Linked DNA regions of Homo sapiens: regions 1, 2, 4, 5 and 6 are each linked to region 3. Evidence: fine-mapped expression QTL. A gene starts in region 3. Each other region holds a variant in brackets. All regions are shown on one strand. Distances are between the middles of the regions. Region 1 has its middle 22 kb from the start of PI16. Region 2 overlaps C6orf89 (chromosome 6 open reading frame 89). Region 3 holds the start of C6orf89 (chromosome 6 open reading frame 89). Region 4 has its middle 6.1 kb from the start of FGD2. Region 5 overlaps C6orf89 (chromosome 6 open reading frame 89). Region 6 overlaps PPIL1 (peptidylprolyl isomerase like 1).

Region 1 (4,088 bases), 47 kb after region 3:
CTTCTGACCAGGACCAAGCTCAGGACAATCCTGCCTCCTTATCACATATCGAGCTCCACTGCTGCTGTCTCTGTCTAAGAGCTTGCTTCACTCTTAGACTCTGCCAGTAATTACCTCACTGGTTTCTCGCCGCACATTCCCCATCCCAATTCACCATCCATGTAGCTGCCCTGATGTCTGGTCACCTCCCTTCCTTGCTCCTCAGTGACTCTCCATTGCCCACAGGAGAAGTCCTGGCCACCACTCCAGCCTCATCTCCTTTGCTTCCCCTTCTCATCTCCTGTGCCCCTCCTCTACTGGACCATCCTAATTCCTGGAAACGTCCAGGCTGGGGTTTTTGTTGTTTGTTAATTTTTGGAGCAGTTCTAGGTTCACAGCAAAATTGAATGGAAAGTACGGCGAGTTCCCATATATCCCCTGTTCCCGCATGTGCACAGCCTCCCCCACTATCAGCATCCCTACCAGAGTGGTGCATTTGTTACAGTCAATGAACCTACGTTGACAGGTCATTATCGCCTGAAGTCTATAGTTTATATTAGGTTCACTTCACTGTTGGTGTTTTACATCCTATATGGGTTTGGACAAATGTATGTTGTCCTGTGTTATATGTCTGCCATTATAGTATCATACAGAGTAGTTTCACTGCCCTAAAAATCCTCTATGCTCTATCTGATCATCCCTCTCTCCCCACTAACCCCTGGCAACCACAGATCTTTTACTGTCTCCATAGTTTTGCCTTTTCCAGAATGTTCAAATAGTTGGAATCATACAGCCTGTAGCCTTTTTAGACTGGCTTCTTCCACTTAGTAATAGGCACATAAGTTTCCTCAACATCTTTTCATGGCTCAATAGTTCATTTCTTTTTAGTGCCAAATAATAGTCCATGGTCTGGATATACCAGAATTTATGTATCCATCTACTGAAGGACATATTGTTTGCTTCCCAAGTTTTGGCAATTGTAAATAAAGCTACTAAAACCATTCATGCGCAGGTTTTTGTGTGGACAGAAGTTTTCAGTTCATATAACTAAATACAAAGGAGTACAATAATTGGATCATATGGTAAGAGTATGTTTAGCTTTTTTTTTTTTTTTTTTTTTTTTTTTTTTGAGATGGAATCTTGCTCTGCCACCCAGGCTGGAGTGCAGTGGTGCAATCTCAGTTCACTGCAAGCTCCACCTCCTGGGTTCACACCATTCTCCTGCCTCAGCCTTCTGAGTAGCTGGGACTACAGGCACCCGCCACCACGCCCGGCTCATTTTTTGTATTTTCAGTAGAGACGGGGTTTCACCGTGTTAGCCAGGATGGTCTCGCTCTCCTGACCTCATGATCTGCCCGCCTCGGCCTCCCAAAGTGCTGGGATTACAGGTGTGAGCCACCGCACCCGGCCTAAGTATGTTTAGCTTTTTATGAAACCATTGAATTGTCTTCCATAGTGGCTGTACCATTTTACAGTCCTACCAGCAATGAGAGTTCCTGTTGCTCCACAGCCTCACCAGCATGTGTCAGTGTTTTGGATTTGGGCCATTCTAATAGGTTTGTAACACCTTACTGCTTTAATTTGCAATTCCCTAATGACATACGATGTTGAACATGTTTTCTTATTTACCATCTATATATCATTTTTGGTGAGGATTCCAGATCTTTTGCTCATTTTTTTTTTATTATAGTCTGGTTGGTTGTTTTCTTACTATTGAGTTTTAAGAGTTCTGTGGCTTGTCTTCTCATTTCTTGACATTGTCTTTTCCAGAGCAGAAGTTTTTAATTTCAGCAAAGTCCAGCTTATCATTGGTTTCTTCATGGATGATGCCTTTGGTGTTGTATCTAAAAGGTCACCTCTATAACCAAGGTCATCTAGGGCCTTCTCCTGTGTTAACTTCTAAGAGTTTTATACTTTTACATTTTATACTCACATTTAGATTCATTCTGAGCGAATTTTTATGGAAGGTATAAGGTCTATGTCTAGATTCATTTTTTGCATGTTAATGTCCAGTTGTTCTAGCATATTGCCTTTGCTCCTCTGTCAAAAATCAACACTTTGGCTGGGTG[C/T]GGTGGCTCACACCTGTAACCCCAGCACTTTGGGAGGCCAAGGCGGGCAGATCACGAAGTCAGGAGTTTGAGACCAGCCTGGCCAACATGGTGAAACCCCATCTCTACTAAAAATACAAAAATTAGCTGGGCATGGTGGCGGGCACCTGGAATCCCAGCTACCCGGGAGGCTGCAGCAGGAGAGGCATTTGAACTTGGGAGGTGGAGGTTGCAGTGAGCTGAGATCGAGCCATTGCACTCCAGCCTGGGCAACATGGCGAGACTCCATCTCAAAAAACAAAAAAAAAAAATCAGTATCTTTATGTGGATCTGTTTCTAGGCTCTCTCTCTCGTGGTCTTTTGATATATTTGTCTGTTCTTTTGCTGATAGGACGCTGTCTCGATCACTATAGCTTTATAGTAAATATTGAAGTCAGAGTGGTGTCAGTCTTCTACCTTGTTCTTCTTCAGTATTAAGTTGGATATTCTGAGTCTTTTGCTTCTTCATTTAAACATTAGAATCCGTTTATTGATATCCACAAAATAGCTTGTGTTTGATTTTGATTGGGATTGCATTGAATCCATAGATCAAATTGCATCCAGGCGGTTTTAATTAGAAGTTATAATTCCTAGCCCATGATGTTTTTGAAATTCAGTATGAATTTTTGCTTAGTTTGAATTCCATCTTATTACTGCACATTCCTGTGACATGACACATGTCCTTTAGGCTTTCTTACTAAATCAAACTGACAAGCCTCTAGACACCATGCTGAAGACAGACATTTCACCAATCTTATTTTTTCAGAATAATGACTCTATTATTTTTTTTAAAATAATACATTCTTATTATAAAGAACTGAAGACAGTTTGGGTGATCTTATGGAAACCTCCACTCAGTGCCAGGTGCGGTAGCTTACAGCTGTAATCCCAGTGCTTTGGGAGGCCAAGGGGAGAGACCGAGAGTTTGAGACCTACCTGGGCAACATAGTAAGACCCTGTCTGTACAAAAAAAAAAAAAAAAAAAAAGAAAAATTTAATTAGCTGGGTGTGGTGACGCACACCTGTAGTCCCAGCCTCAGCCTCATCGCTTGAACCCAGGAGGTTGAGACTGCAGTGAGCCATGATTGCAACACTGCACTCCAGCCCAGGCAACAGAGCGAGACCTTGTCTCTTAAAAACAAAAAACCAAAAACCACCCAGAGATAACTACTAACATTAGGTGAACAGCATTCTAGGTATGTCTAAGGTATTTCTAGGTAGAATGCTAAATAGAAATGCTTATATTAAAATGCTATTTTAAAAAGAAAAGTTCTGAATCTAATTTTATGTGAATCTAACAGGAGAAAAAGAAACTGAAGTAGATGTTTCTTCCCCACAAAAATTAGTAGTTCCCAAAAGATCTCCCTGAAGTTAATATTATGAGAAACATTAAGAAACTAGAATTGTTCTTAATAAGGTTTCCTTTTTAGATGGCATAATCCAAGGCTCTAAAGATAAGGAAATAGCTTGCTCTTTCTCCTCAATTTGTTTATTCCTATATTGATTTTGTTTTTAAAGTCTATGCATTTCCTTCTGCTCTGAAACCTTAATTCTCACCACAGTCTTTTTTTCTTTCTTTTTGAAACAAAGTCTCACTATGTTGTTCTCACCAGCCTCAAAGAATCCTCCAGCCTTAGTTTCTCAAGTAGCTGGGACTTCATTTTATTTTATTTTTATTTATTTTTTTGAGGTAGAATCTCACTTTGTCACCTAGGCTGGAGTGCAATGGCACAATCTCAGCTCACTGCAGCTCTGCCTCCCGGGTTTGAGCGATTCTCCTGCCTCAGTCTCCTGAGTAGCTGGGATTACAGGCAAACACCATCGCACCTGGCTAATTTTTGTATTTTTAGTAGAGACGGGGTTTCACCCTGTTGGCCAGGCTGGTCTTGAACTCCTGAGCTCAGGTGATCTGCCCACCTCAGCCTCCCAAAGTGCTGGGATTACAGATGTGAGCCACCCCGCCCGGCCTTCATTTTATATTTAAACTGATTTTGTGGCTCACCACCAGTATTTTTGCCATTG
Region 2 (4,088 bases), 31 kb after region 3:
CCAAGTGGTGGCGCTGCTTTCCTGAGCGGTGGTTCCCATTTCCTTATCCATGGTGAGTGTGAAAAGGGCCGGGCACAGTGGCTCATGCCTGTGATCCCAGCACTTTGGGAGGCCGAGGCAGGCAGATCACTTGAGCCTAGGAGTTGCAGACCAGCCTGGCCAACATGGCAAAACCCCATCTCTACTAAAAATACAAAAATTAGCCAGGTATGGTGGTGCATGCCTGTAATCCCAGCTACTCTGGAGGCTGAGGCATGAGAATCACTTGAACCTGGGAGGTGGAGGTTGCCATGAGCTGAGATCGCGCCATTGCCCTCCAGCTTGGGTGACAGAGTGAGACTGTGTCTCAAAAAAATGGGGGGGCTATGGGGGCACTTAGCGTGCGAGTAGGAAAGGGGCAGACCAGAAATACCTGCAAAACAGTAATAGCTATCACTGAGCCACTACCACAGGCCCAACACTTTACAAATCCAATGCTGGGATCCCACTGATAAACCAGTGATGAGAGATAAAAGGGATGGATGAAGAGGTGTGTCAGAAGGAGGGGTGCCACCATGGGGGGGACAGCAAGTTTGTCTAATAGAGTCATAATTTATTTCGAAGTATGCATTTAGCATTTTATGTAGAATGGGGCCTCATGCAGGGGGCTGAAGAGAGAGTGCAAATAATAGAAGGAGAATTGCATTTTTTGGCACTTGTTTCTGCCAGGCAGTGTGGCTTGGTGCTTAGTGTCTGTGTCTCACTGGGGACACTGATAATAACTCTGGAAAGTAGGAATGATTGTTGTCATTCTTCAGATCAGACAAGTGGGGATCAGTAGCTAGGCGTGGTGGCTCATGCCTATAATCCCAACACTTTGGGAGTCTGAGGCGGGTTGATCACTTGGGCCCGGGAGTTGGAGACCAGCCCAGGCAACATAGGGAGACCCCATCTCTACAAAAAATATCCAAGCTACTTGGGAGGCTGAGGTGGGAGGATGGCTTGAGCCTGGGAGGTTGAAGCTGCAGTAAGCCATGATCATACCACTGCACTCCAGCCTGGGCGACAAAGTGAGACCCTGTTTCAAAAAAAAAAAAGGTTGGGGGAGGGGGAAAGAAAGAAAGAAAAATGGGAAACAGAGAGATTAAGTAACTTGCCTAAGGTTACCCAGCCAGGATCGAAACCCCAGTTTGTCCTGCTGTTCCTTCCTGTGCCCTGCGGAAGACATGGTTCATTCCTTGTGGTTAAGGTTGCTGTCTAGTAAGAAAAGAAAGCCAGTTTCCATCTTAGAACTGTTTCGAAAGAATTAAAATGACTTTTTCAGGCTTTTTGTTAATTTCTTAATGCTTCTATCTTTCTTTAAATGTGCTGTTTGTTTGCGTGCTAGAGTGCCCAGTTGAACAAGCTGAGCAGGCTTCCCCCTGCGTCTCCCTGTGCCTCAGAAGAAGGGTCATGCTTTTTGTCCCTTCCTCCTTCTCTCTTCTCCCCTTCCCCCGCCTGGCCTGCTGTTACTTCAGTCTTTTCCAAGATAGAATGAATAGATTATTTCTTTCCTTCCAATATATATTGTTTTAGCTGCAATTTAGAAACACTCCACCCACATACTCAAATCATGGCTGTAGAGTTTATGCCTGTGTGTGTACACATTATAGTTCATTGACTCTGTGCAACTATTCTTCAGGGACCTAGTACTTAAGATACTGTACTCATATTTTTCCCTCTTTACCCACCGCCCACAGTTTTCCCACCCTTACTTGGCTCTCTCTTAGTCATGGGCTGGCTTGACCAGTTTAATTACTTTTTTTCTGTTTCATACTTCTACAGGAGGAGACCTCTGAACAGATCACAAATGTTACGTGAGCTTTTTCCTGTTTTCACTCACCTGCCATTTCCAAAAGATGCCTCTTTAAACAAGTGCTCCTTTCTTCACCCAGAACCTGTTGTGGGGAGTAAGGTAGGAAATTTTGAGAGGACTTGGATCTAGAATTTTCTTTATTTGGGACCTGGACTGATGTCATAACCAAGGCCTTCCCTGCATATTGGCTTAGAGGGTTACAGGGTGAATTGAGGGGACACCCACACAGTCTAGTTCT[C/T]CCCTCCTGCTGCTAGCCAGGAGACTTGCAGGGGCCCACCTTGTCATGAAGGCAGGTTTCCAGAAAATCTAGTTACCTTGCAAATCTGCCTCCTGCCCTTAACACCTGAGGCAAACTACTTTTCTATATTAAAAGAAGTGAAATCTTAAAATTTGAAGGACTTGAGGGTGCAATTAGTCTGGCTTTCCTACCTTAAATTAGAAAGTAGGCAAGCAGCCATGATCGGTGGTCGCTCACGCCTGTAATCCAGCACTTGGGGAGGCTGAGGCAAGAGGATTGCTTGAGCCTAGGAGTTTCAGACCAGCCTGGGCAATATAGGGAGACCCTATCTCTATTTTTTCAAAAAAAGAAAAGAAAGCTATAAGGTAATAGTATGTGGATGAATAGAATAACTGCTCCATTTTGTGGATAAGGAAACTGAGTCCCAGAGAGATTAAGTGAGTTGCCCAAGGACACACCCTTTACCCTCTCACCCCCAGGATGGTTTTTGCCAGAAATAAACAATTAAGAGATTTCAGGTAGAGAACTTGAAAGGCAAAAAGTGTGGGAGCCTGGGAAGGATTTGATAGGCAGGCAGCCCAGCTGGGGTAGAAAAGCCCACTCTGCCCCCATCATTTCCCACTTCAGTCTGGGGCCAAGTGCTCAGAGCCAAAGTTACCTCTCTGGGGCCAGTGGACTGGGAGAAGCTGTTCTGCATTTGTGTCTGTTTACTTTTCTCTGAATTGCTCCTTTTGTTGAGTCTCATTCCTAAGGAAGGTTTTTGAGCCTGGATCGGTTTGGGAGAATTAAAAGCATGCATTTTCCTTCATAAAAAAATAAATTTCCCAAACTATGGCCCCCTGCCACCTCTGGACCATGGCTTCCACCTCCTGATACTATCGCTTGGCTCCAAATTTGCTGAATTGTGTTAAAGGAATTTAAAAGCCTATAAAAACAATCATTTTGTCTAGAAGTAAGAAGTTCTGTCTGCCAGCACTGGGGTGGAGATGCTGGGCTCTTGCCTCAGATTTTAAAGAAGTTTATCCTGCTGTCGCCGGCTGGAATTCCAGGCCCTTGTATGATTTCATCTTCATAAATATAATTCTGGGACACGGCTTTATCTTTCTCTTGGTTTTACCACTTGAATACCAAAGTTAATTTCTCCAGCGTGTGCAACACCAAGGAGCCCAGCCAAAGGAGTAAATACAGAGTTACTCAAATGCTTACGAGAGTCATGCTGTGGTTCTCGAGGATGTTTTGGGAAGGGCAGTGGCCAGACAGGCAAAACTCTTGAGAACCCAGTTTCTTAGAGAATCTGTTTCCCCACCCTGGCCCAAGCTCCCCTTTCCCCGCAGCCTTGTTACCCCACCCTGTTGTCCACATCCCTGGGCCCTGGGCCCTGGGCCCTGTTAAAGTCACGTGTCTGTGGGCCCAGTGTCCAAAGGCAGCCTTGGGACAGAATTGGGGAGCTGGTTGTTAAGTGGCACTCGGGGAGAAGGTGAGGGCCTCCAAGGCCCACTTCACCCACTCCACGGTGTGGCCTAGGGCTGGCCTGTGCCACCCTCTTGTCTGTTTCTTCCCATCCTGGGAATGGATGAACATGACCCTGCCCACTTCAGGCCTGTGTGAAGAAGGGATACAGCCACTTGTTTTGGTCCTTCTGAGATTGTTTTGAGGACTACAGATGTTAAGGCTTCTGCCAATATTAGTACCAGTCAACTGAAGGCTAGCTGAAGACACCAGGCTGTCCCTGTCACCACATTAGCCGGTGAAATGGCTCTGGTGTTGCCATGAAAACATTATGGGCAAGGCCTGTGGCAGCAGCAGAGAGAACAGGGTTGGGGACAGGGGAAGATGGGGCCAAAACCCAAGACTCTGGAGGCCCTGAGTGGTGAAGAGAAAACCAAGACATGGCCCAGGGAGTCAGACTTCTGGCTCCCACTTTATATGGGCATATAAAGGGTTTCTCTGAAGGGCAAGAGATAGGAGGAAGAGATGAGAGAAGAGGCCCTAGGGGTTTTCTGTCATCATCAAGGT
Region 3 (4,088 bases):
TTGAAAATTATACTAAGTAATAGAATTGGCTAAACAGAAAAGTACCTGTGCAGCTGTTGACACCTGTGGCCTATGGAGAAATACAGCAAATGTAAATTATAAACAATTCTGGCCGGGCGTGATGGCTGACACCCGTAACCTCAGCACTTTGGGAGGCAGAGGTAGGCGGATCCCCTGAGGTCAGGAGTTTGAGAGCAGCCTGGCCAACATGGCAAAACCCTGTCTCTACTAAAAATATGAAAATTAGCCTGGCGTGGTGGCAGGTGCCTGTAATCTCAGCTACTCAATAGGCTGAGGCGGGAGAGTCACTTGAACCTAGGAGGTGGAGGTTGTAGTGAGCTGAGATCGCCGCTGCATTCCAGCCTTGGTGACAGAGCAAGACTCCCTCTCACAAAATAAATACAATAAAAATAAATATCCAGTTGTAGGGGATTAGTGAAAAGACCACTTAGTCAAGCAAGGAGACTCTTCATCTAACTCATTCTTCAATCTATTTAATTTTAGGTGGTTTGGCTTATGGGGACCCTGGGTAAGGAGCATACTCCAAACTCTTGCTATTATCCGCCCGATAATGATAATAATAGTCTCCCTGGTGCACTGTATTCTCTCAAAGATTTTAAATGCTTGCATGCAGCCATCTCTACAACGTCAAATGATCTCTTTTCAACTGGAATAACAAAAACTGAAAGAAATGTGTGACCATGAAGGCACCGTAACCTATGAATGACATGCTGAGACCAGAAACCCAAAATGATGTAACTGAGAGTGGCGCTAAGGCCCTAAGTTCTGGTCACGCTGTCACCTAAGTAAGAACCTGGCCAAAAGTGAGGAATTTTTTTTTAAACAAAATCATGGGAGGCCATTATTTTGGACTGAGCTCATGCACTAGGCACCAACAAACCAAACCAAACTAAAATGGAGTCACTCATGCTAAATGTGACATAATCAAACCAAGGCTTTAAAAAAACACAAAATGCTAGAACAGACCAGGTTTTTTCTCCTGTAAACAGATGTTTCAGAATAAGGAGGTATCCTCTACTCAGCCCTTATTCTCTTCCTGCAAAACCCACTGTTCTACTGTTTCCTAGTGAGTTTCAAAACCATACAGGTACACTTATGACAGCGATAATAACATCAATGACCAAGGTTTTGGTCAATCTCTCAAAATTGAGAAAATGACCAAAACGGGGGAATTGTTAAGGCAAACTAAATATGGCCTGAGAAGGACTCTGTCCTTCTATATTTGAGTCCTTGTGGATGAACTGTAACATAGCTTAATAGTCAAACAAAATTGAAAACCTAACTTAATAGTATACACCTGTAACAATAACTGAGTGGTGGCCAATCCCAGCGGCCATACTTCAACCACTCACAGCCTGCTGAATGTTCAATCTGCGTTCAAATCAGGCAAACACCGAGCTGTAACCAACCTCACTGTTTCTGTACCTTACTTCCGATTCCTGTGCCTCACTTTGCCTTTTTTATCTATAAATTTGTTCTGACCATGAGGCACCCTGGGAGTCTGTGAATCTGCTGTGATTCTGGGGGTTGCCTGATTCGTGAATCTTCCATTGCTCAATTAAACTCCTTTATACTTAATTCGGCTTAAGTTTTTCTTTTATCAACAGAGTAAGCTCTCACTAATGAGTGGGCTGAGTGAAAACTGGAGGGATTTGTTCGTCTTTCTCAAGAGTAGTAGCTTCCAGAAGGAAGGGGCTGCTCTTCATTTACATTTCCCTTCCACTCCCATCCCTTAATGCCTAACATGCTGCCTGGCACATAGTAGGGGACTCAGTAAATGCTTGTTCTATGGATCAGTTCAGCTATGAAGTCTGTGTGAGCCAGTCCAGGTAAATTAGGAAGACAAGGATTTAGGACTGGGGCGAAAAGAGCCAGAACGGAAGAAGGACGCCAGGGGGAGCAAGAACCTACACTCTCCAGATATCGCGAGAGGTCCCGCGCTCGCCACGACACTGAGTGTTCTGTTTTGGGCGGAAGCGCTGGACGAGAGGAGGAATTACTCTAGGGTACAAGGCCTCGCCCAGGAGTGGGGGGTTGCTTCCGGGTCGCGCTCCCGGAAACAGGAAGTTGCCCATCCTCCTCGCCCGGCGGCAGCTGTCCCCGAGGCGGGAGGAGCCCGAGGGGCGCGAGCCCCGCATGTGAGTGACTGGGGCCCGAGGCTGGGTGGGGGGAGGCCGCCCTGTGACAGCCTCGCCGCGCCCGTCTCTGACATCCTCGCGCAGCCGCTTCTCGCCGCTGCTACCACCCTCTATCCCAGCGCGGATCCCTTTTCTCAGTCTCTCCAGTTTTGTAGACTGACAGCATCCCCTGGCAGCTCCCCCGGGGTCGACTCCCTTAAGACATCTGTCACTTTCTTTGACTCCGCCGGGGAGAGCAAAACGAGGTGGACCTTGCTTGAACTTGGTTCTCAGGCATCACAGCAGTGTCCATAACTTGAGCGTTGCTAATGAAGTCCAGATTTCTGCCCTTTTGACGGAATTTTTAAGAAATTAAGAGTAGATTCCCCACCCCCTTCTGAAAGATCTTTTTCTAATAATCGTTAGGGGGCAATAATTTTTTTTCTTTAAATGTGTACTTGGTATGTGATAAACCTGGCATCTTGGATTTCAGAAAGAAATATGACTTGGTTTCTTGACACAAGTAAAATAGTTGTTTGTAATCACCTCTTAGTAGAAGGAAATTTGCCTGCGTCGTGTTTTGTAGTATTTTAAGACTGTTAACCGTGCAGGCCACACTTTCTAGTCTCAGAGCCCTCATAGCCTTTGTATTCGCAAATATGTTTCTTTTAAAGTATTTAGTCATAAATCACTTTATAATAGAGACTACTTCCAGATACTTAGTATTCTGACTTTTCTGATGGCTCATTTGGTAGTTCCTGTGGTGGGATCTTCTATAGACGTCTCTCCCTTAATAAATTCGTTCATTTGAATTTGGGTTGTCAAAATTTCCCTCTAGGGAATAACATGCCTTTAAAATAATAACTAATAAATTCAATTCTGCTACATTGAAGTTTTGACTAAAGGTTCATGTAGCCCAACTTGCATACCAGAAAGAGGTCCTGTTTCTGTCAGACCTTTTCTGCCTTGGACTGAGGCATTTTTCAAGACCTGCTTTGAATACCTGTTCCTCCACAGCTACTCCACACACCAGAAACAATGTCCAAATGCTAGATTCCTAACCTGCTAACCTTAAACCCTCATCACATTGTTGCTACCTCTGCGTTTTTTTGTTTTTTTTTTTTTGAGACGGAGTCTCACACTGTCGCCCAGGCTGGAGTGCAGTGGCGTGATCTCTGCTCACTGCAAGCTCCGCCTCCCCGGTTCACACCATTCTCCTGCCTCAGGCTCCCGACCTCTGCATTTTTAAAAATGAATAAAATAATAAAACATAAAATGAATAAACCATGAGCCACGAGTTACATTCAATTAGTTCGGAATGATAATTTTAGGTCCTTTCTATAAATTTGTTCAACATTGATCTGATTCCACATCTGAGGTGAATTCCCACGTCTGTTCTTAGTTTTTTGTGTTTTCTCCATTTATCTCTGCTTTCAAGAAACACTATTTAGGGTGGGAGGTAGACAGGAAAATAGATGTAATGCCAAGCCCTAGAGGTGCATAGGACAAAAACTGAGGTCAGAGTCTTAAAGAGTTCACTTATTGGACAAAGCACTGGAGACTAGGCTTTTTAGGCAGAGGAAATTGTGTATGCAAAAGCAAAAAGATGTGAAATAGTATGACAGTGTAGAATGTGAAGAAGGATTGATGGGAAATGAAACTGAACAGGTAGGCAGTGACCAGATCATAAAGGGCCATGGTAAGTAATTTGGACTTTATCTTTTAAAAAAGACAGGAATCTCATTCCATCACCCAGGTTGGAGTACAGTGGTGCTATTACGGTTCACTGCAGCCTCGAACTCCTGGGCTCAAGCTACCCCTCACCTCTGCTTCCCAAGTAGCTGGGACTACAGGCAGGCACCACCACACTCGGCCAATTTTTATTTTTATTTTTTTTGTAGATACAGGGTCTTGCTATGTTACCCAGGCTGGTCTTGGAAGTCCTGGGCT
Region 4 (4,088 bases), 110 kb after region 3:
GAGGGCCCAGGCCCTGGGTTGGGGTTGGGGAACAGGGCCGGAGCTTGGCTTGATAGGAGCTGCTCCAAGGAAAGACCAAAAGCCAAACTCAGGGAAGGCAAGAGGCGGAGGAAAGAGAACCTTCCACAACCCCCTCCCGCATGCTGGAATGTGCTGCTCCCCACTCAGAAAGGATGTGTGGAGGGCCTACTGTTTGGCAGGCACTGTACTAACTTCTGGGGACCCAGAGACAAATGAGCCAAGGTCCTGCCCCTTCTGGATCTTGTGAGGACTGAGGCCTCGGATGGGATTTGGGTTTCATTTCTCCTTGTTTCCCAAGGTCCCAGCACAGGGGCTATTTGCTGAGAGCAAAGAAGGAAGGGACCTGGTGGGAGGAGGGGCGGGAACTCGGCAGCTCCTTGATGGGAGCAATGGGCTGTTAGTGGGCTCCTGTGTGGTTGTTACATAACAGCTCCCTGGAAGAAGGTACAAGAGGAGCCTAGTAACAAGATGCATTCATGCAGAAATCACAGGCAGAGAATAAGTCGTGCTATTGTGTGGGAAGATAGCGGAGAGGTAGCACAGGTGGGGGAATGGGTCGTGGGAGAAAGGTCGTCAGTGTGGAGGGCAGCGGGCTGGCTGTGCAGGAACAATGTGTTCCCTTTCTCCACTTGGAAACCTGTCAATTCTCTCCAAGCCACTCATGTTTCTGTGTGAGCGCTGTGAAGAACCAAGCAGTCAGGGCCTCGAGAAAGGCCTACAACTATTTGGATAGAGAAGGAGCCTGTCGCTGGGTGTGAGGCCCCTGCATGGTGGCTGAGTGCTTGCACTCTGGGTGCCTTCTCAGGCACAGCCTGGCACCACTCCTGGGCTCTGGCCTTGCTTTACTGGCTCCTTTCTGGTGCCTCCCTGCCCAGATCCCGGCCCTGGCTCTGCCAGGCCCCCTCTCCTCCCCTAGAAACACAATCCTTGCCTCTGCCGTCTCCCAGTGTCCCGGGGGCGTATCTCCTGCCAGCCTGCACATTCACTGTGGGTTCAGCCCGCCTGCGATTTCACTCTTGGTTTCCCTCCTTGGGCCCCACCTGATCTCTGCTTCTAGTGACCTTGAGTTCTTCCTGAATAGTGGGGTGGGTGCCAGGGCCTGGCACAAGCCTTGCCCAATCCTGGCACAAGCCTTGCCCAATCCTTGTGAATGCCAACTTTGAAACTAGATAGTTCACACGCTGAAGAAGAAAGAGCTGTTTATGTTCTTCACTGACGTCCTCTGGCCACCCACGTCAGGCCTGACACCCATCTGCCCCCCACGTCAGGCCTGACACCCCTTTGCTATCTGGGCTGTGCTCTCAGAGCGGATCCTCCTGGGCAGTGAGCCGCAAGGAGCCTGTATTGAGAGAGGTGGGTTTTGCCTCCCGGTATTCCTCACAGGGCTGAACCAACTCGGAATAATTCCACTCCTCAGGTTGACAGTAACATTTAGGAACACCCAGGCCACAGAGGGTCAGGGGCATATAGCAGGCAAAATATAGGGAGGTTCCTGGAAAAGGTGAAAGCGGGAAGGCCGGCGGGCCTTCCACAGAAGGGGCCAGCACCCTTCCAGAAGAAAGCCTCGGCAAAGGGTGGAATTTCCGGCAGAGGGACAGAGTGGAACAATTCTGGCTGCTTGGAGGAGGGGACAGATGAGACGAGTCTCCAAGGGAGCCCAGCTTTGTTCAGCTTCCTCCCTCCAAGCCAGGGATCGGAGGCCCTTGGCGCCCATCCCTCCCATCGGCAGTGTGGCCTCTGCCCACCATGTGACTACCCAGACAGCGCCCTCACTAGGGCCTTCCAAAAGCAGGGGGTGGGGGTGGGCAGGAGGAGGGGGTGAGGCGGAGACCGGGAGGGGTGGCAAGGGTCACGGCAGCCTCTGGCACAGGTTTCAGCTGGCTGCCTGCATCCTCTCTAGAGCCGCATCATCCCAGCTCACAGGCCTGTCTGTCACGGGCCATTAAGCCCTTGGCAG[G/A]TGCTGTGTGCTTGACTGAGGCTGGAGGTGGGATGGCTGGCAAGGGGGAGCCTGGGAACATGCCAGCCTGTCCCCTCCAGTCCTTGTCACCCTGAAGATAAATGCTCCTTTGGGGAGTCCTCACTGTCCCCGGAAAGGCTACACCTGGTGAACCCCTGCAGATTTGCTACACACACACCGTTCATACACACAATGCACACATACATACATGCACGTGCACACACGCCAACCTACACACACACCAGATACACACATGTCACATACACACCCCACAAATACACACATATACACTCATAGCATCCTGATCCTAAGTTGTGACACTTCCTCCCTGGCAGCCTCTAAATGCCCCTTCTGCTTTCCCAAAGTTGCCCCAAGAGGTCCTCTGGGCGCCTCCAGTCTACACACAAAGCCGCTCTGCATGCACCCCAGGGTAGAGATCCCTCGCCAGCCGAGTCCCCACCTGGCCCTGCAGTTCTGCTTGGGCATCCCTCCCTCACCCTCCCTCCCACCTTCCCCCATCTGAGCTGTAGGGAACTGAGCTCTTCCATCTTCCCTTGGGCTTGAAAGCAGAGAAGAGGAGAAAAAAAACAAGAGGTTTATTCATGCCAAAGACCCCAAGAGCCCTGAAATGGAGACATTGCCCCTGCTCAGAGGGAGATCTGTAGACTGGATCAGGGGTTACTCTGCTGAAAACGCTATACTCACTCCCCTAACCTTCTAAGCACCTCAGTTTGGCAGACAAAGCCTAGCAGGCCAGGCTTCCAGGACCCCTTCAGCTGCGGGTTCCACCATTTCCCAGGCCCTGGACACCCACGTGTGCGAGGCCCTGTGTTCTTCCCAGTCTAGCCATGGTAGCCATGGTCTCTCAAGCCCATATCCCTTTGCACATGCTGTTCCTTCTGCTTTGAATGCCCCTTCCTGTCTTGTCCACACAGAGTTAACTCATCCTTCATCCTTCATCTTTTTTTTTTTTTTTGAGACTCTGTCACCCAGGCTGGAGTGCAGTGGTGCAATCTCGGCTCACTGCAACCTCCGCCTCACAGGTTCAAGCAATTCTCCTGCCTCAGCGTCCTGAGTATGTGGGACTACAGGCACCTGCCACCACACCTTGCTTTTTTTTTTTTTTAATTTAATGGAGACGGGGTTTTACCATATTGGCCAGGCTGGTCTCAAACTCCTAACCTTGTGATCCGCCCGCCTCAGCCTCCCAAAGTGCTGGGATTACAGGTTTGAGCCACCGCACCCAGCCCATCCTTCATCTTTCATACTTCAAGTCACCTCTGCCACAAAGCCTTCTGATGACCCTTCTTTGGATGTTCATAACTCCCTTGTTCAAAGCTTTCATCACATCCTATTTTAGTGGTTAACAGGCCCATCTTCCTTATTAGAGTTTGAGCTAAAGGGCTGGGGACTGTGTTTTATCTACAACCTCTACTATGGTATTGACACATAGTAGGTGCTCAAGAAACACTTATCTACTGAATGCGTGACTTAATGAATAGGGCGGAAAAGACAAAATTAAACAGAGAGGAACACCAGGTCTCTGAGGAGGAAAATGAATTTCCAGCAGTAGGTATAAAGGAAGGCTTCCTGGAGGAAGTGAACCGGCTGTAGACAGACTGAAGACACTCTAGGCCAGGGATCCCGTAGCCTATTAGGAACTGGGCCGTACTGCAGGAGGTGAGTGGCGGGTGAGCATTACCACCTGAGTTCTGCCTCATGTCCCATCAGCAGTGGCATTAGATTCTCATAAGAGTGCGAATCCTATTGTGAACTGTGCATGTGAGGGATCTAGTTTGCTCACTCTTTATGAGAATCTAATTCCTGATGATCTGAGTGGAACAGTTTCATCCCAAAATCATCTCCCCACCCCCCGCAACCCCAGAAACCAGTCCCTCGTGCCAAAAAGGTTGGGGACCACTGCTCTAGGCAAAGGGAACTGATTGGTCAAGGCAGAGCGGAGCTATAGCAAAGGCTTCTCTCAAAAGTAAGAATGCTGGTAGCCAACAGTCACCGAGTACCTACTCAGTACCAGGCCTTACTCTAACCTCTTCTATATATTATTATCCCATTTAATCTTCATAACAACCACAGGAGGTTGGCAGTATAA
Region 5 (4,088 bases), 20 kb after region 3:
GCTGGATTATTTGGACTACTTCAAATCAATATTTTGCCTTGCAGATGGAAATAAAATGAGTCCTTGGAGCTCAGTTGTAGAGAGAGCGAGTGAGCATTGGAAGGGTGTGGCTTTAGCTCTTTAATGTTGTTGATTCTATTAAAGTGCTGTTTTTACTTGTAAATGTGGATGTGGAAGCACCATATTTTCCTATGTATGATAATTCTGGGAAGCTGTAGACATGTGAAACTAACAGCATTTTGCGTAGCATTTGGAAGAAAAGTTAAAAACACGTAATTATATGAAGAGTAAACAGAAACACATGAGGGAGAATTAAGTGCAACTTAATCTGGGCCTGTAAGAGGGCAGGAAAAGTAAAAATATATCATTTTTTAATGTCCTGGTATCAAAAAACAACTACCTTCAGGTTAGGATTAGTTGGCCATACATTTAAAGTAAATGCAAGGGGAGAATGGTGTGACAGATTCCCGAAAGGAAACCCCATATGGTTTCCTGAAGTGCTGGCCTGTCTCACACTCCCAGGGTCATCTGGTGCTCCTTGCAGTGGCACCTCGGGAATGATGGAGGGCAGCTGCAGCCTTGGTGATGTACAAGAGGCACCACCACCAATGACTGGAAGTTTCCCCTGACCCCACCCAGGGAACAAAAAGGTGACAGAGGTGGGGTTCTTTTTCTAGATTTCAGCCTTAGATAGGAAATCCTGCCCCTAAATGCTCTCAATAAGAAGAATGAAGTGACTTTGCAGCGAGTCATGGAAACATCCCGCTCTGCAGCAAAAAATAAGTAAATAAACTGACAGTTGTTTATTACTTACCAGATGCCAGACCCTGTTCAGGGGGCTTTCCATATATCGGCTTATTTAATCTTGACAACATCCCTATAGGGTAGCTTCAGGTTTTATGCCCATTTTACAGATGAGGACACTGAGGCACAGTATGGTTAGGTCACTTGCTCAAGGTCCCAGGTCTGGTCACGGAGCCATGATTTGAACCCAGGCAGCCAGTCTTCAGAGTCTGAGCCCTTCGCCTCTGATGTGAGTAGTCTGTAGCTGTGCAGTAGACCTGAAGAGTCTAGCTTTAAGTCTGATGTTGGAGTTCTACCACTGTCTCTCTCGGATCATCAGTTACTTTCTCTTAACTCCCTAGTCCCTGAAGAGACAATATTCTTTCTGGCTGTTCCAAAGATAAGTGGTCTTCCAAGCTTCTGACCCTTTAGAATTTTCCCGACCTGGTGTTGTCTTAGACATTCAGCCCAGTTCATCCTCCCTAGTCTGCACCCTGACATTCAGCCCAGTTCATCCTCCCTAGTCTGCACCCTTATGGATAATATTTGACTGACTTAATCCTTCCTCTTACTGACCCAGAGTTTTCTCTTTACATTCACATTCTTACTGCTTTTCTCCCCTCCTGGCTTCATATCTTTATAGTCACTTTACTCCTGCCGGCCATCCCCTTGGTTTTTACCATTTCCATGGAATCATTGAGTCTTAAAGCCAGAAAAGAATTTTAGAGTTAATCTAGTACATACCCCATTTTATAAAAGAGGTAACTGAGGCCAGGAGAGGTAAAGGAGCTTGCTTACCCAGCTAAAAGTGGCAAAATCACACTTGAACCCTAGTTTCTTAACTCCCTCTAGCATTCTGTCCAAGATATCACACTTACAGCCTGCCATCTCTGCCCTCAGTCAAGCCAGGCGCTAGCATGTTCAGCCAATTATTTT[T/G]TTTACTTTGGTCATTTTCTGGCCAACTTAAAAATAACATATTCATTTCTACTGAGGAAGCCTGGGATAGTTCTCACATACAGTGAAAAGGCACACATTTGGAACTCGATGCATCCCGTAACCTTCAAAGGAAGGATGAAGTAGATCCAGCAACATCAAGAAGTTTTGGAAATAGCAAATCATTTATTGGCCTCAAACTAAGAATCTAGTAAGACTTAGAGAGTCCAGATCTGTGCTCAAAGATGAACTGCTTAGACCGCAAGGAAAACCTTCCTCTTTTATTTGCAAAATAAGCTTACCTTCTGTGATAATAACAGCTCTGTCAAGCACTTACTGTATACCAGGTACTGTGCCGTGCAGTTTATTTCTCAGTCTTCACAGCAGTCACATAAGGTAGATACTGTTTTTATGTTCATTTCAAAGATGAGGAAACTGATGTGCAAGGGGATTGACTGACTTATCTGAAGTCTCACATTTATTTATTTTTAATTTTTTCTTTTGCTGTGTTTTTGATAATAAATTTTCACATTTAGAAACAAATTTTTGTACAAGTGAGAACTCATGAAAATAGACTTTCTCTGTGGTTTGGAGTGGTTCAAATGCATTGCTTCCTGGAGGCAAGGCTGTTGGTGAAATGATTTCTTGGGCTCTTTCCCTCTACGGTGTGTGAAAATGGCTCTGGGCATGGTGCCACACATGCAGGGACCTGGCAGAAGCCTCCTTCATTGTCAAGGCTTCACCCCTGCCTCATGCCCGGGGTACTAGAAGAGGTGCTATGCACAAACAAGCTTCTGGAGAGCAGCCTGATTAAATATTGAGCACACACTAGTGAAAGTCATGGGAACTTTGTCATGGGCTTTGCAGGGTTTTCTTGGCTATATTTATAATGCAAGAAATGATGAAGTTATATTTATTTAATCTTTATTTTGAGGTTTCTGTGAATCCAGATTGCTCATTTGATTTTTCTCCCCATGGACTTAATTCTATTGTTAAAGCTTCTGAAAAATCAGCCTTCCTGCCTGCCTTCCTGCCTTCCTCCCTCCTTCTTTTCCTCCTTCCATCCCTTCCTCCCTCTCCCCAACTTCATTCACTCATTCAGTAAATGTTTATTGAGACCCTGCTATATATGCCAGGCACTGTTCTCAACAAAGCAGTGAACAAAACAGACAAAACCACTGCTCTTGTAGAGCTAGTATTGGCTTTGTTCTTTTCTTTCTTCCCTATCCTTTTTATCCAGAGGGAGTTTTTTGTCCTGGAAAGAAATCTTTTGTTTTGTTTTGTTTTGTTTTGTTTTGTTTTGTTTTTGCCAGGTAAATAATCTATGTAACAGTACTCTCCCCACTCAGAATTCCAGGATATGTTATGGTTGTCTACAGAGAACCAGCCTAAGTGAGTTTTCTTGTAAATAACTCTCAGGCACCAGGAAGCTCCCTGATGGGTGAGACGCTGGCCCATCCATTTTTCTGCCCAGTGCCCAACTTGTAAAGAAGGGTGGATAGTTATGGTCTCTGCACGTTGACTTCAAGGCTGTGTTTTGTCTGAGAGACTGTTTTTGACATCTCCAACAGTGAAATCATTCCAAATCATAGTGAAAACTTGAAATACAAGTTATAAGCTTTATTGAACTTTTATATGTAGGATTTCTCTTCTCTGTCATACCTTTAAAAAATGTTTAAAATATCTGGTATGAGGGATATCTGGAGTAAAGAAGCCTTAGAAATTAAAAGTAGGAAGTTGCTATATAATTTACGCTGACTTTTCTGTCTGGTGCTTCAGGAAAAGTGGTTAGAAACAGGAGGGCTGGAAAGAAGTGAGATGCAGCATATTAGGTAGTCAAAAGCCGTAAACTAGGGTGGCATGGGCTCGGCTGGCTGTGTGCTGTTGGCTGTTTCCCAGGATGGAATTTTGTTCACTTTGTGGCATGATGGCTCCAGCCAGTTGTATAGAGAACACGTCAGACAAAACCTTTTCAGATGGACAGAGGCCAAGCTGGAGTCTGGCCACATCTCTTTCTGTTGTCAGGGACTCTGTGGGGAGAGGAAGAGGAGCCTGCACCCTACCTCCACCCCTAGTTCACCGTTTGCCCGTTCCTCTCTCTAAGCTTATGCTTTATCCACCTTGGTGATCTCAGGCTACAGAGAAATCAAAAGTAGTTCTTTCTTTTAAAGTTTGGGCTCCCTTAGTTCAGGTGGATGGCATAGGCTACCCCATTCCAGTGATCCTTTTTTCTTGTTACTTCCCTTCCTTCTTTGCGGGCCACCAGCCTGGCCACCTCTGCTCCTGTCAGATACCTCTCTGGGGCCAGCCTTCTGAGATGATTTACCTCTACACTTCAGCATTGAATTCTCAGCTTCAGTTTTCATGATCTC
Region 6 (4,087 bases), 30 kb before region 3:
AACAAGGAACTGTGCCTGTGTGGCTCTCCTCCCAAGGCATGCAGAACCTTCTTTGCTTCAGAGTAGCCATGATACGTTTCCACCACGCCTGTGCCTTGGATGAAAGTGGAGATTTTCAGGATTACGATTCTGGGAGGTTAGTGAACAGGTGCTATTCCTTGCTCTCAGAGGCAGATCCAATTATGTCCACCCAGTTCAGGCTGAAAGAAATACATTTCTATTTTTTCCAGAGTGTAGAACACTACTTTGCATACAAAAACCATCTCTGGGAAGTTACAAAGTCATTTATATGGTTTGTTGTTGGGTTTTGCTTTTTTGCTATTGAGAGAAAAGAGAAAGGTAGAGAAAGAGGTTGAAGGTAGGGAAGGCTTGGGGAACAGAACCTTGTTTGGCCATTCCATAAAGTAAATCACCATTTCCAAAATTGATAGAGTAGTAAGAAACATTAAAGTTATAATCCCCTCTTCAAGGAGCTACCAGCTTAAGGAACCAAACACCACAACATATACTGCCTCTGGTCCCATAATAATGTGCAGGTGGGCTCTCTGCAAATTCCAGGGATGGTGCAGGTCTCTTAGCACATACACCTGGTTCACTTACAGGTAATCCCCCCAACATGGTTTGGCTCTGTGTCCCCACCCAAATCTCATCTCGAATTGTAATCCTCTGTGTCGAGGGAGGGATCTGGTGGGAGGTGACTGATCATGGGGCATTTTCCCCCTGCATGCTGTTCTCACGATAGTGAGGGAGATCTCATGAGATCTGATGGTTTAAATATGGTGGTTTCCCCCGTGCTCGCTCTCTCTCCTGCCACCTTGTAAAGAAGGTGCTTGCTTCTCCTTTGCCTTCCACCATTATTGTAAGTTTCCTGAGGTCTCCCTAGCCATGTGGAACTGTGAGTCAATTAAACCTCTCTTGTTTATAAATTACCTAGTCTCAGGTAGTGTCTTTATAGCAATGTGAAAACAGATGAATACACCTCTTATTCAGAAATGTCAATTTCTGTCACTTAATTCTTTCTCTGGTTCTGCCCTTTTAAAGTTAGAATTGCTCTTAAAGAGGGAGAAGTCTACTGGAGATCCACAAGCCTAAAATGATGTGAAATCTTGAACATTCAATCTCTGTACTACTACTTAAGATGACTGGGATTAAAATGACCATTGGAACCTCATACAATATTTAGAATCAGACCACAGCAGCAATTTCAACCATCAATGGCATTTTATTGTGGAAGTTTCTATGTATTACATAGGTATTAACTTCCTTCCTCTCCTGCTCCTCCCCACAAAATCCAGAAAGTTATTTTTATACATAAACAACTGAACATATAAAAATCTTGGACCTAATTTCTCTAAAGTCTTGGGTTAAAAGAACTTGAGTGGCGCTTCTCCTTTCTGAGAGTACTACTTCTCAAGGAGGATTCATGGTCTGTCCTTTGCTCACTACAGATTTCTCCTCTTCTCTGGGAAAAAATGGTCAATGCTTCTGCTTCCTTTTAATAAACTAATTTCTTGATTATTATACATTATTATTATTCCCCACTTGACACCTTCTTAGAAACTTGATTGTTGGATGTGTTTTTCATTTGGCAAAAATTCAATGTGGCTTTGCGTGGGATGTCTGAAGTGTCAGAAACAGCACTGTTGATGTTCTGGTTTTGAGAGGGAAAATATATATAGAGATGCATACATTCCCTAGAAGAACAAATGTAAAAGACTGAAATAGGGCGTGCACAGAGTTAAGAGGGCTGACAGACACTACTTGGTTTGGAATTCTGTGGCTGTCAGCCATCAAGGACTGCTGTGTAGGCCAGAATATAAATCTCCTTAGGAAGAAGTTTGGTTAGGCAAAACCACTGAGAAATGACAGTGGCTGCTACATTGTTCGACGTATATCAGAGCAGACATGCACAAGAAGCAGCATTATGGTTCATGTGTAGTAAGTAGTCACCTATTGATAAACAGGGGCATTTGTGCAAATGCTCTGGCAACCTAGGCACTGGGGGAAGAGAAAAGAAGCATCCTATTAAAATGTACTTCCATCTCTAACTCACCCAAGATGCCAGGCCTCCTAAGCTTCATGACTTGCAAAGCCAAAAT[G/GA]AATTTAGCATTACATGTCATTCTATGTCATCTAGAAGCTGGTTCACTGGGGCCATCTCAGAAGAGCTGCTCAAGAGGGTAGCAAGTCTACCCAGAAGGGTATGCCTTAATGATCTTCACGTCGTCCACAGGGCGGTCCTGGGAGTTTGTTTCTACCATTCCCACGCGATTCACCATTCCTATGCCCTGACACACTCGGCCAAAAATGGTGTGTTTGCCGTCAAGCCACTGGGTGGGGGCGAGGGTCACAAAGAACTGGCTGCCATTGGTATCTGGCCCCGCATTGGCCATTGCGAGAATTCCAGCCCCTGGTGGGAAAAAGGAAGAAAGGAAAGAGTATAAATAACCCCACAGGTCCAGTGTAGAGCTGCTGCCCCATCCTAGGGATGAAAAAGCAGCCAGGACTTTGTTCTGGCCTCTGTCCAGACCCAGACAACCCCTCAGGGCAGTCTCTCTGCCCTGTACAAAGGCCATCACTACACTATTCTGGCGACTTCATCTTCCTTGTCCTCACCTATTCCCCAGCCTTGACCCCTGATGCTCCTCACTAACTGTGGACCATGTTCCTGACTGCCCTCAAAAACCCAGCAAGGTTTCCTGTTTCTTTGAGGACACTTTTGATATCCTGTGACCTTTAACAAGTAGTTAGAGTCTAGAACACACCGACCAGTGCTCTGAATTGCTCAGAACTTTGTGAGAGGCGCTGCTTTCTCTAATCCACCAGGGCACTTCATGGCGCCATGGCTGGGCAGCTATCTGGCACCATGCCACGGTGTCAGGCATTCACCTTGAATCATGGCCAAAAGAGTGAGCTTTTAAAATCCCCGTTCCTACCCAGTCCAGCCAAATTATACACTTACCCGTGAATTTCAAGTCTGGATGAAGTTCATCTTCAAACTGTTTGCCATAGATAGATGCACCACCTCGACCTGCCCGATTGGAAGATGACACATGAATCAGCCAGTCACACATTCTATCTCACAGCAAGAATGATGGCCCAGGGTCAAAGGATTTCTCAGAGTAGAGGAAAGGAAAAGGCAGTGACACCTACCCCACTGCTAGGTATATTGCAACTACAGAATCTAGCACTAATAGCACATTCAAATCATTGGTTTCATTCCGATAAGACTTTCCTTTTCAAAATAACGCTATTTTTTCCTGCACATTAAAATAATACATGTTCACTATCAAAAAGGTAGAAAACATAGAACATTATCAAAAGAACATTAAAATCCTCTGTAACCTGACCATCTAGAGATAACCACCATTCATAATCTGATGTGTTAAGAGGTTTCTTGATTTTTAACCTTTTTTTGAGTATTTTAGACATGAGTGCCCCAAGTCCTATCCCTGTGCCCATCACAGACATTGCCAATCAATCAGTATTCTTCCCTGCTGAGCTAGATTTGCCTCTGAATGTTATCAACCCAGAACTCAGGCAGCCGTTATTAATTAATCAGTAATAGCCCCAGAGTTGAAACCTATTTGCCACCCTTAACCTAGGTGATGGAAAATAAAATTCATTTAAGTTAAAGCTATCCAGCTGAAGGAGAAATAGCTGGTAAGTGGCAATGTGGCAGAAAGGGACATTACGGTCGGCAGAGTCCACTGAGAGGTGAGGCAGTACATCATTAAGAGAAAACAGGGCCAGGTGTGGTGGCTCACATCTAAAATCTCAGCACTTTGGGAAGCTGAGGCAGGAGGACTGCTGGAGGCCAGGAGTTTGAGCTGGGCCACAGAGCGAGACCCTGACTCCATAAATTTTTTTTTTTTAGAGATGGGGTCTTGCTACGTTGCCCAGGCTGGTCTCAAACTCCTGGCGTCAAGCAATCCTCCCTCCTTGGCTTCCCAAGTGCTGGGATTATAGGCGTGAACCACTGCACCTGGCTCACAAAAAAATTTTAAAATTCAGCCAGATGTGGTAGCACATGCCTGTAGTCCCAGCTCCTTAGGAGGCTGAGGCAGGAGGACTGCTTTGAGCCCAGGAG

What was found.
Region 1: its variant is fine-mapped to the expression of C6orf89 in whole blood (TOPMed, PIP above 0.99).
Region 2: its variant is fine-mapped to the expression of C6orf89 in lung (TOPMed, PIP 0.96).
Region 4: its variant is fine-mapped to the expression of C6orf89 in esophagus muscle (GTEx, PIP 0.95).
Region 5: its variant is fine-mapped to the expression of C6orf89 in esophagus muscle (GTEx, PIP above 0.99).
Region 6: its variant is fine-mapped to the expression of C6orf89 in whole blood (INTERVAL, PIP above 0.99). The same link has a PIP of 0.9 or more in skeletal muscle.

What each region holds. Positions count from the first base shown.
Region 1 is chr6:36,930,579-36,934,666 of GRCh38, forward strand. No RefSeq gene overlaps it. Among named protein-coding and RNA genes, the nearest start is that of PI16, 22 kb to the right of the region's middle. The variant C/T (reference allele first, on the strand shown) is at 2,049.
Region 2 is chr6:36,914,642-36,918,729 of GRCh38, forward strand. It overlaps C6orf89 (chromosome 6 open reading frame 89), which reads left to right. Exons shown (of 9, transcript NM_001286635.2): 6 at 1-52; 7 at 1,804-1,933. Among named protein-coding and RNA genes, the nearest start is that of C6orf89, 31 kb to the left of the region's middle. The variant C/T (reference allele first, on the strand shown) is at 2,073.
Region 3 is chr6:36,883,870-36,887,957 of GRCh38, forward strand. C6orf89 (chromosome 6 open reading frame 89) reads left to right here and starts at 2,083. Exons shown (of 9, transcript NM_001286635.2): 1 at 2,083-2,159. RefSeq lists an enhancer at 1,843-1,922 and a silencer at 2,143-2,322.
Region 4 is chr6:36,997,468-37,001,555 of GRCh38, forward strand. No RefSeq gene overlaps it. Among named protein-coding and RNA genes, the nearest start is that of FGD2, 6.1 kb to the right of the region's middle. RefSeq lists enhancers at 156-779, 780-1,403. The variant G/A (reference allele first, on the strand shown) is at 1,979.
Region 5 is chr6:36,904,292-36,908,379 of GRCh38, forward strand. All of the region lies in intron 4 of C6orf89 (chromosome 6 open reading frame 89), which reads left to right. Among named protein-coding and RNA genes, the nearest start is that of C6orf89, 20 kb to the left of the region's middle. The variant T/G (reference allele first, on the strand shown) is at 1,720.
Region 6 is chr6:36,853,627-36,857,713 of GRCh38, forward strand. It overlaps PPIL1 (peptidylprolyl isomerase like 1), which reads right to left. Exons shown (of 4, transcript NM_016059.5): 3 at 2,960-3,028; 4 at 1,203-2,407. The coding sequence ends at 2,187. Among named protein-coding and RNA genes, the nearest start is that of CPNE5, 16 kb to the left of the region's middle. The variant G/GA (reference allele first, on the strand shown) is at 2,100.